Regions from separate parts of the Homo sapiens genome. Here region 1 is linked to region 2. The links come from fine-mapping of genetic effects on gene expression. A gene starts in region 2. The other region holds a variant in brackets. All regions are shown on one strand. Distances are between the middles of the regions.

Region 1 (4,387 bases), 20 kb before region 2:
CCCCTGTAGGATATGGGAAGGTCAGCCATGACATGATGGCCATTTGAGCCGAGACAGTCACACTTCACCATTTACAAAGCGCTTCCATGTGGGACCTCCTTCAAGCCACACAAAGCCTGGGAAGGTAGACAAGGAGCCCCTGCTGTGGATGCCAGCTGGGATCACAGAGCCCACAGCATGAGTCCACAAATTAGGCCTCACCCACAACAATGTGCTGCATCTGTCAACCACAATGAGCACTGTGGGGCCCTCCAGGAAGGCATAACCATGGAAAGAGATCACTTGCCAGGAATTTTGTTCCAAGACAAAAACCAGCCGTAAGTGGGCAGGAAGTTGAATGAGATAACTTGTAAGGCCTTTCTCCCTCCGCAGTCCTGCTGCCTATGACAGCAGAGACAAGTAGCCAGTTCCAAGGACCCAGAAGGGCCTTATCAGACCAGAGAAGTGACCTCTCAGGAAACAGGATCAGAAATTCTAGAAGACTATGCCCTCTACTTCTGAGAAGAAGGTCCTACCGAATGCTTTAATCTTCTTCACGGTCTTCTCTGTGTTATTGGTGACAGTCACGGTCACAGGGATGGGCTCCCCATGGAAATAGATCTAGAAAAGTCAGCAGATAGGTCAGAAGAAGAGAACAGATGTGGCGGTGTCTTTAATCTTACTGCTTTCTAGATTCATCTCAATCCCTTTCACTGGAATAAAAGCGGCAGAATTTAAGGAAGATGAAGTGATAGCAATACATTTCTTCTAAGGAAGGGCCTGAAACACATTCCACCCATCTGTGGGAAGCTGGGGAGGGGAACAGAGTTCCGATCATCACATCGGAGGAGGCCAGGGGTCAGGAGGTTATGGGGGCAGGATGAGTGAAGTGAAAGGAAACCACTGGGAAAGCCAAGTGCTGGCATCCCACCCAGCAGAGCCCGTGTAACACAGCCCCTGGCACACCCACACACGTGTATACACACAGTGCACAAATGGCTGACTGCTGACCAGAGGAACCAGAGCCAGCCTTGGCCAGCAGCTCTCACCTTTTCCCACCATGACACCCCTAAGAGATGACATCACAGGTGACACTGCCATCCCACATGGTTTCTGCAAAACTTAAATTTCCCAGGAAGTGAAGAATTTGGGATACCACAGCTATTGATGCTCCATGAGTGAACAAGGCCCATGGAGGTGGACAGGACAAGGACAGCTGGGGGGCAGGTATGTGAAAAGCAGCGCCCCTTCCTTCCCCAGTCCCTCGGGACAGCCAGTGGGTGGAACGCAAGCCAGTTCCGTCCTCCTCTAAGGACCATGCTGACCAGCTCCAGGCTGTGAAAACAGGCCAGTCACTTACGCATGTTGGTGCTTTATCCTAGAAACAAGCTTCCTTGCAAGGCACCCATGTAGTTAAGGGCTGGGGCTGGTGAAGAGAGGGGTGTGGGGCCTGCCCCTAGGCCTGCTGCCCTGCGGGTAGTAGCGATGGTAGGTGGTTACCTCTTTGTTGAGAGAGACCGCAAGGTGCAGGGGCTTGTCAGACATGAAGAACTGCCAGGCCGCCTCAGCTCGGGGCTGGGGACCCATCTCAAGTGGGGCATGCTGTACTTTGCGGATCAGTAATCGCACGGAGCTCCTGTGGGAAACAGCCACAGACAAGCCAGGGATTGGCACCCAGGCCGCTTTAGGGAGGCTTCTGTTCTCTCCCCACTGTCACATGGAGATTCTCCAGGAATGCTCCCCATGGAGACAGGGTGGACGGGAAGAGGGCAACGACACTGGTCAGAGCCTGAGGCAGCCCTGACGGTGGAAGAGCCTGGGGGTCTGGGTCCTGGTCCCTTCCCTGTGGGGGAAGCTGTGGGGCCAGGCAACATCCCGAGGGCCAAGCTTAGCCCCTTAGGCTCCGTGGATTCCCAGCTCTGCCTCCTGTCAGCAAGGCTAAGGTGTGAGGGCGTCAAGGGCCTCATGGAATAGCTGCCATATACATGCGAGCTCCATTACTGCAGCTCACTATCCTGCGCCTCCAGAGATGTGTACATGGGGCAC[A/G]AGGAGACAGTGCGAAGGGCCAGGCGGAAATCTTGTTTAGGTAAAAAAAAAACAGCACAGGGGGTGGGAGAATGGGAAGGATGGAGCGGTAGGCTCAATGGTTGTAGAGTTCCTGCTCAGGCAATGGGAAAGTTTTGGGTATAGACAGCGGTGAAGGCTACACAACATTCGGAATGTACTTAAGCCACTGAATGGTACATTTAAAAGTGGTTAAAATGGGCCGGGCACAGTGGCTCACGCCTGTAATCCCAGCACTTTGGGAGGCCAAGGCGGGCGGATCACTTGAGGTCAGGAGTTCAAGACCAGCCTGGCCAACATGGTGAAACCCATCTCTACTAAAAATACAAAAAAAAAAAAATTAGCCAGGCGTGGTGGCGCACGCCTGTAATCCCAGCTACTCGGGAGATTGAGGCAGGAGAATCGCTTGAACCTGGGAGGCGGAGGTTGCAGTGAGCCGAGGTCACATTGCACTCCAGCCTGGGGGACAGAGCGAGGCTCCATTTCAAAAAATAAAAGAAAAAAAGAAAAAAAAGTGGTTAAAATGGCAAACTTCATGTTGTGTACATTTTACCACAAAAAACAAACAAACAAACAAACAAACAACAACAACAAAACTTCAACAAAGGGGAAACCCGGGAGCTTTTCGGGGCTTACGTGAGCCCTGGAGGTTGCTAACTTCCCTGTCATTTTCTTGTTTTCTTTTTTTTCCCCAAAAATGATCAACCTTTGACCTCCATCCCACATGCAGATGGTACCCCAGCCGTGCCAGCCCTATGGGAAGAGGTCTGTCCCACAGAGACAAGGTGGAGGTCGTCTCTTCTCTCCACCCCCACCGCAGACCCCTCACCTATTCCGCAACCATACTCTTACTTCTTGGGGATTTTGTCCTCTTCGGCATCGGTGCTGTCTGTGGCGAATGCTTTGACCTCAAAGTCAACCCCACAGGACTGTTGGGGAGAGAGAGCAGACAGGCAGCGATCAGCGACTCCCTCCCTGGGTGCCGGGCCAGAGGGCCACACCTCACACAGGGCACATGATGTGGCACTATCTCTTTTTGTCTTGGCCATGTCCTATTCGGGGTTGCACCATTTAGGGATTTGGAAGCATACTGACAGTGAAACAATTACAGTAGCGCAAGGAGTGTGCCATGGGCCCAAAGCCCCCAGAGGGAGGGGATCCACCTGCCCCATGAGCCCTCCTGCTGCCGTGGAGAGTCATTCACATCCTGGCTATCCTTGCCTCCTGCCACCTTGCACACTTAGGTGTCCCCAACTGTGATCCCATGCATCTTACTGACTTCCACTGCCTACAGCAGGGGCCAGAGGTACAGGCACTCACAGGGCCAGCGCTGGGGTCCAGGAATGCCCTGATAGGGTATGGAAACCCTGACCCCCATGGTCACCTGCTGTTCAGCGGCAGCCTCATGTGGCCAGGCAGCAAGGCACCCAGTGCGGGCAGCACGATTTTTTTTTTTTTTTTTTGGAGATGGAGTCTTGCTCTGTTGCCCAGGCTGGAGTGCAAGTGGCATGATCTCGGCTCACCACAACCTCCGCCTCCCGAGTTCAAGCAATTCTCTTGCCTCAGCCTCCTGAGTAGCTGGGATTACAGGTGTGCACCACCATGCCCGGCTGATTTTTGTATTTTTAGTAGAGTTGGGGTTTCACTAGGTTGGCCAGGCTGGTCTTAAACTCTTGACCTCATGATCCGCCTGCCTTGGCCTCCCAAAGTGCTGGGATTATAGGTGTGAGCCATCGCGCCCAGCCAGCTTGATTTTTAAAAAAGAAACTTCACGTGGAATTTGGAGTGAAATCTCCTAGTTTTTAAATTAAATAAAAAGACTTTTAAGCATTGTGTGGGCTGAATGAACGGATCTGCCAGTGACCTTCCCCCGATTCCCAGTGTGTGAAGCCCCTGGCCCCCAGTGCAAGCCCTTTGTAACCTCCCTCATCTCTGCACGTTCACATGCGTTGGGGAGCCAGAGGAGGGCACCGGCCTGCCCTCCACCACTGCCTGGAGGGGAAAGTAGAGCTGGCAAAAATTACAGGAAGCCAGCTCTGTCCATGGTGACATATGAGGCACGGATTTATTGGTTCTGCAACCAGGGAATCATAGCAGTCCTAAACTCTAAGTGGAAAATAAATATGCATCCTTCCCTGCCATCAGCCGGCCGTTGTTGAGCCACACCAACGCCTGTTCTGCTCGCCCACCTGGGCTTCTCAGCTGTCAAGCCCCCAGGCCCCCAGGCATTCAGGCACTTCTCTCAAGCTCCCTGGGCTCAGGGCGCACCCACTTTCCTGAAGCCCTGCAGCTGTGCTAAGACCTGCTCCTCTCCTAGAACAGAAAATAGGTGGTGCTTTGTTGG
Region 2 (4,387 bases):
ATCACAGGTACTGACAAAACTGTGTTTAAATAGTAAGTCAAGGGTTCAAGGCTGGCTAGGAAAAGATGCAGAGGTGGGGGTGACAGTGTGGGGATTGAGGGATTCGGAGAAAACTGAGGGACACAGGACTAAAGTCTTGATGAGACTGAAGAGAAGCTCTATTTCTGCAGTTCATTCACTCATTTATAGCTCAGTGATCATCCATCTTAGACAGAGACAAAAATAGACACAAAGCTTCCCTGGCCCTCACAGTGTTTGTTTGTTTTTTATTTGAGACAGAGTCTCCCTCTGCTACCCAGGCTAGAGTGCAGTGGCACCATCTGGGCTCACTGCAACCTGTACCTCCTGGGTTCAAGTGATTCTTGTGCCTCAGCCTCCCAAGTCTGGGATTACAGGTGCCTGCCACCATACCCAGCTAATTTTTGTATTTTTAGTAGAGATGGGTTTTGCCATGTTGGCCAGGCTGGTCTCGAACTCCTGGCCTCAAGTTATCCCGCCTCCGCCTCCCAAAGTGCTGGGATTACAGGCATGAGCCACCGCGCCCTGGCCCTCAAAGAGTTTTGATGTTGATCATGACTACACTGTACTTGAAAAAGCTCCATTTTTTTTAAACAATAATTTCTATCAAATCACTCACTTGTGCACCACTCACCGATTTGTCCCGGGAGATCTTCTTGAAGATAACATGGTTCGGTTCGGACTTGCTGGTCTTCCCGCTGGCTGCCATGTTATCTGTCCCTGGCAACTTCTACCACCTTGGGGTGTTGGTCAGGTGTTAGAGGGTTGGAGAAAGGTAAGACAATCCTAAATATCAAGTCAAGAACATCCTAGTTATGAAACCTACTCACGAGATCCTGTGCGTCCTCACCATGCCCTTGTACCGGCTTCAACATCCGAGTTTCATCGGTGAGTCTTTGCTTAGTTTGTATTTTACTGCAGCATGCTTTGGGGTGTTTTCAATATTTTATTTTTCTTGGTAAGCTTCAAACATTTCTCAGTACACCTTGCCAGGGAGTCTAGCTAGATTCCAATGAGGTTTTACTTTCTGACTAACCTTTGGTGTTATCACACTTAGCCAGGTTGAATTTAAAGTTCTATCGTGACTGTGTCTAATGGCGAATAAATCAGAAAAGTTCCTGAAAACCACAACATAACCACTTCGCAAAGACTGTTTTCAAGAAGATATTAATGGCCGGGCACTGTGGCTCACACCTGTCATCTCAACATTCTGGGAGGCTGAAGCGAGAGGATCATTTGAAACCAGGAGTTGGAGACTGGCCTGGGCAACATAGCAAGATCCTATCACTTTTTTTAAAAAAAAAGAATATATTAAAATCCCAAAAGTTCTATTTGGCAATTCCTACTAAGAGATAGCCACTCTGTTTTACAATTAAGAGGCCATCTTAGCGGTCTAGAATTAAGCATACTCTGAGGTTTTTTTTTTTTTTAAGATATAGGAGCTCGTTCTGTTGCCCAGGCTGGAGGGCAGTGCCACAATCATAGCTCACCGCAGCCTCGAACTCCTGGGCTCGTGATCCTCCTGCCTCAGCCAGCTGAGTAGCCAGGACTACAGGTGTGTGACACCATGCCTAGCTAATTTATTTTTATTTTTGTTTTTTTGTAGAGACTGGGTCTGACTGTATTGCTCAAGTTGGTCTCGAATTCCTGGCTTCAAGTGATCCTCCAGCCTCAGCCTCCTGAGTCACTGGGACTATAGGCATGAGCCATTGCACCCGCTCACTCCAAGTCTCCTTAAATAGCAACCAAGTCTTATGGAAACCACACAGAAAAGGTGAAGGCGGGACATACTGTCTGCAGGAAAACGCCCATCCTTGCTCTTCCCCACACCTGCCCCAGGTTTCTGATAAGGTTTTGGCCTGTGGTGGTCACATACCTTGTGATTTGTCACCAACCAGGTGGGAAGGGCCGGGTGGCAAGGAGAGGGTCTCTATGCTCTGAGATGATGAATAGCCAGCCCCTGTTCTGAGCAAGCTGGTACCGTCTTGCCAGATGAGCCTGAAGGGGCACCGCTGAGGCTCCTGGCCTACGTATGTGGGGAATTTGTAGGGGATCTAGCGAGGATGCCCAGCATCCAGGTCTCAATGTCTAAAAGCCAAATCCCACTTAAGGAGCAGAGTTGGATTAGTGCTGAGACAGTGAACTGGTAGTTTCAGCAGTTCTAAGCATTAAGCAACACCCCCCGCCCCGGTCTCCATACGGAGGGTCTCACAGATGTATGAGTCACCCAGCTGACTTGGGGAAGGTTGGTGGGAGGGCCAACAGCTAAATGAAAGCTACTTTTTCTTCTAAACCTCTTTGGATTCTGGAAATAGACTGATTATCTCTTCATTCCCGGGCATTGCCAGGACAGGAAGAGATTTGATTAAACTCAGCAGGCAGCTAATGCGACCTTGCGGGTGGGGACTAAACAAAAAGGTCAAGGAGAAATGTCAACCTCAAGATGAACCTGGTGTTATGCAAGCCAAGCTGGATCTGTCCCTCTCCTCCACCCGGTCCTACTGATTGATGGCTTCAGGAGTCCTGTTGATCCCCTCAGTGTCTCTGGAACCTGTCTGCATCCTCCCATCCCCAGCACCGCCTTTGCTTCTCAGGACCGGAGTGATTCCCCACTGTCTGACTACATCTATTTCTTTTCTTTTTTTTGTTTTGTTTTTTGTTTTGAGATGGAGTCTTGCTCTGTCTCCCAGGCTGAAGTGCAGTGGTGCAGTCTCAGCTTGCTGAAACTTCTGCCTCCCAGGCTGAAGTGCAGTGGTGCAGTCTCAGCTTGCTGAAACTTCTGCCTCCCAGGTTCAAGTGATTCTCTTGCCTCAGCCTCCAGAGTAGCTGGGACTACAGGCGCCTACCACCACACTGAGCTAATTTTGTATTTTTAGTAGAGACAGGGTTTTACTATGTTGGCCAGGCTGGTCTCGAACTCCTGACCTCAGGTGATCCACCTGCCTCGGCCTCCCAAAGTGCTGGGATTCCAGGAATGAGTCACCGCACCCAGCCGACCACATTTATTTCTACCCTCCAAGCCCTTTTCCACACAGAGGCAGAGAGACCTTCTGAGCCCTGTCATCCCTCGCTTACAATCACCCATTGCTCTTAGAATGCAGGCAAAAAGCTTGCAGCCTCTGGAACCTCTGCCTGCCTTTCCTTCCACGCCGTCTGCCACGCTTCCTCCTTCCCACTATTATTTCTGCCTGGAACAAGCCTCTCCTCTCTCCACTTTGTTGACTCTTCTTGGCCTTTCAGATTTTTGACCAGGAGTCACTTCCTCAGGGGAGCTATCCCCAACCTCCAGGACCAGATTGGAGGCACGCTTGCATTTCACTCTTTTTTTTTTTTGCTTTCGAGATAGAGTCTCACTCTGTTGCCTGGGCTGGAGTGCAGTGGCGCGATCTCGGCTCACTGCAGCCTCCACCTCCTGGGTGCAAGCGATTCTCCTGTCTCAGCCTCCCGAGTAGCTGGGATTACAGTTGTGCACCAGCATGCCCAGCTAATTTTTGTATTTTTAATAGAGATGGGGTTTCGTCATGTTGGCCAGGTTGGTGTCAAACTCCTGGCCTCCTGAAGTGCTGGGATTATAGGCATGAGCTACCGTGCCTGGCCACATTTCACTCTTGCTTGGGAATTATTCTACAGTCTCTCTTCCCTCACTGGAGTCCAGGCTCCATGAGGGCAGGGCCTAGGCCATTTTGTTTCCTTCACTTTTGTCTTCACAGTGCCCAGAACAATGCCTGCTCCCAAGAACACTCAGGGAATGGATGGAGGGGACTCTGCGACCACTAACACACTTACATGGGGGACTGACTTGGGAATGAAACAAGTATATGCAGAAAGCCTGTTCTGACGTTTGGGGTATCAGCATCCACCCAAACATTCCAATGGCTTCCCATTTAAGTCTGGACAATGCTTGCCAGGTCCGGCATGCTCTGGCCCCCCTTTACCTCTGACTTTATTTCTCACCACCCTCTCCCTTGCCCACTTCACTCCAGAGTACTGAGCCTGTTTTCTTTTCTTTTAGAGACAGGGTCTCGCTCTGTCACCCAGGCTGGAGTGCAGTGGTGCAATCATAGCTCACTGCAGCTTTGAACTCCTGGGCTCAAGCGCTCCTCCCACTTAAGCCTCCCGAGTAGCTAGGACTACAGGCACATGCCACCACACCCAGCTAATTCTTTAACCTTTTTGTAGAGATGGGGTCTTGCTATGTTGCTCAGGCTGGTCTCGAACTCCCAACCTCAACTGATCCTCTCACCTCAACCTTCTAAAGTGTTGGGGTTACAGACGTGAGCCACCACCACTGGCCTGCTTTTCTTTAAACCTCCGTCTAGGCCTTTCCACTTGCTATTTCCTCTCCTGGAACAGTCTTCCCACAGCCAGC

Which allele goes with the higher level. Positions count from the first base shown, and alleles are read on the strand shown. Sizes are in standard deviations (SD) of each study's normalised expression.
As copies of A replace G in region 1, the expression in testis of the gene that starts at base 2,101 in region 2 goes up (moderate effect, 0.63 SD a copy in GTEx).

Evidence for each region. PIP is the estimated chance that this variant, and not a neighbour inherited with it, causes the effect.
Region 1: its variant is the best candidate, but not a certain one, in a credible set for the expression of SAG in testis (GTEx, PIP 0.71).

The regions. Positions count from the first base shown.
Region 1 is chr2:233,325,706-233,330,092 of GRCh38, reverse strand. It overlaps SAG (S-antigen visual arrestin), which reads right to left. Exons shown (of 16, transcript NM_000541.5): 7 at 2,896-2,972; 8 at 1,480-1,615; 9 at 516-600. Among named protein-coding and RNA genes, the nearest start is that of SAG, 20 kb to the right of the region's middle. RefSeq lists enhancers at 1-615, 646-1,477, 2,775-3,752. The variant A/G (reference allele first, on the strand shown) is at 2,026.
Region 2 is chr2:233,305,530-233,309,916 of GRCh38, reverse strand. SAG (S-antigen visual arrestin) reads right to left here and starts at 2,101. Exons shown (of 16, transcript NM_000541.5): 1 at 1,895-2,101; 2 at 653-755. The coding sequence starts at 727.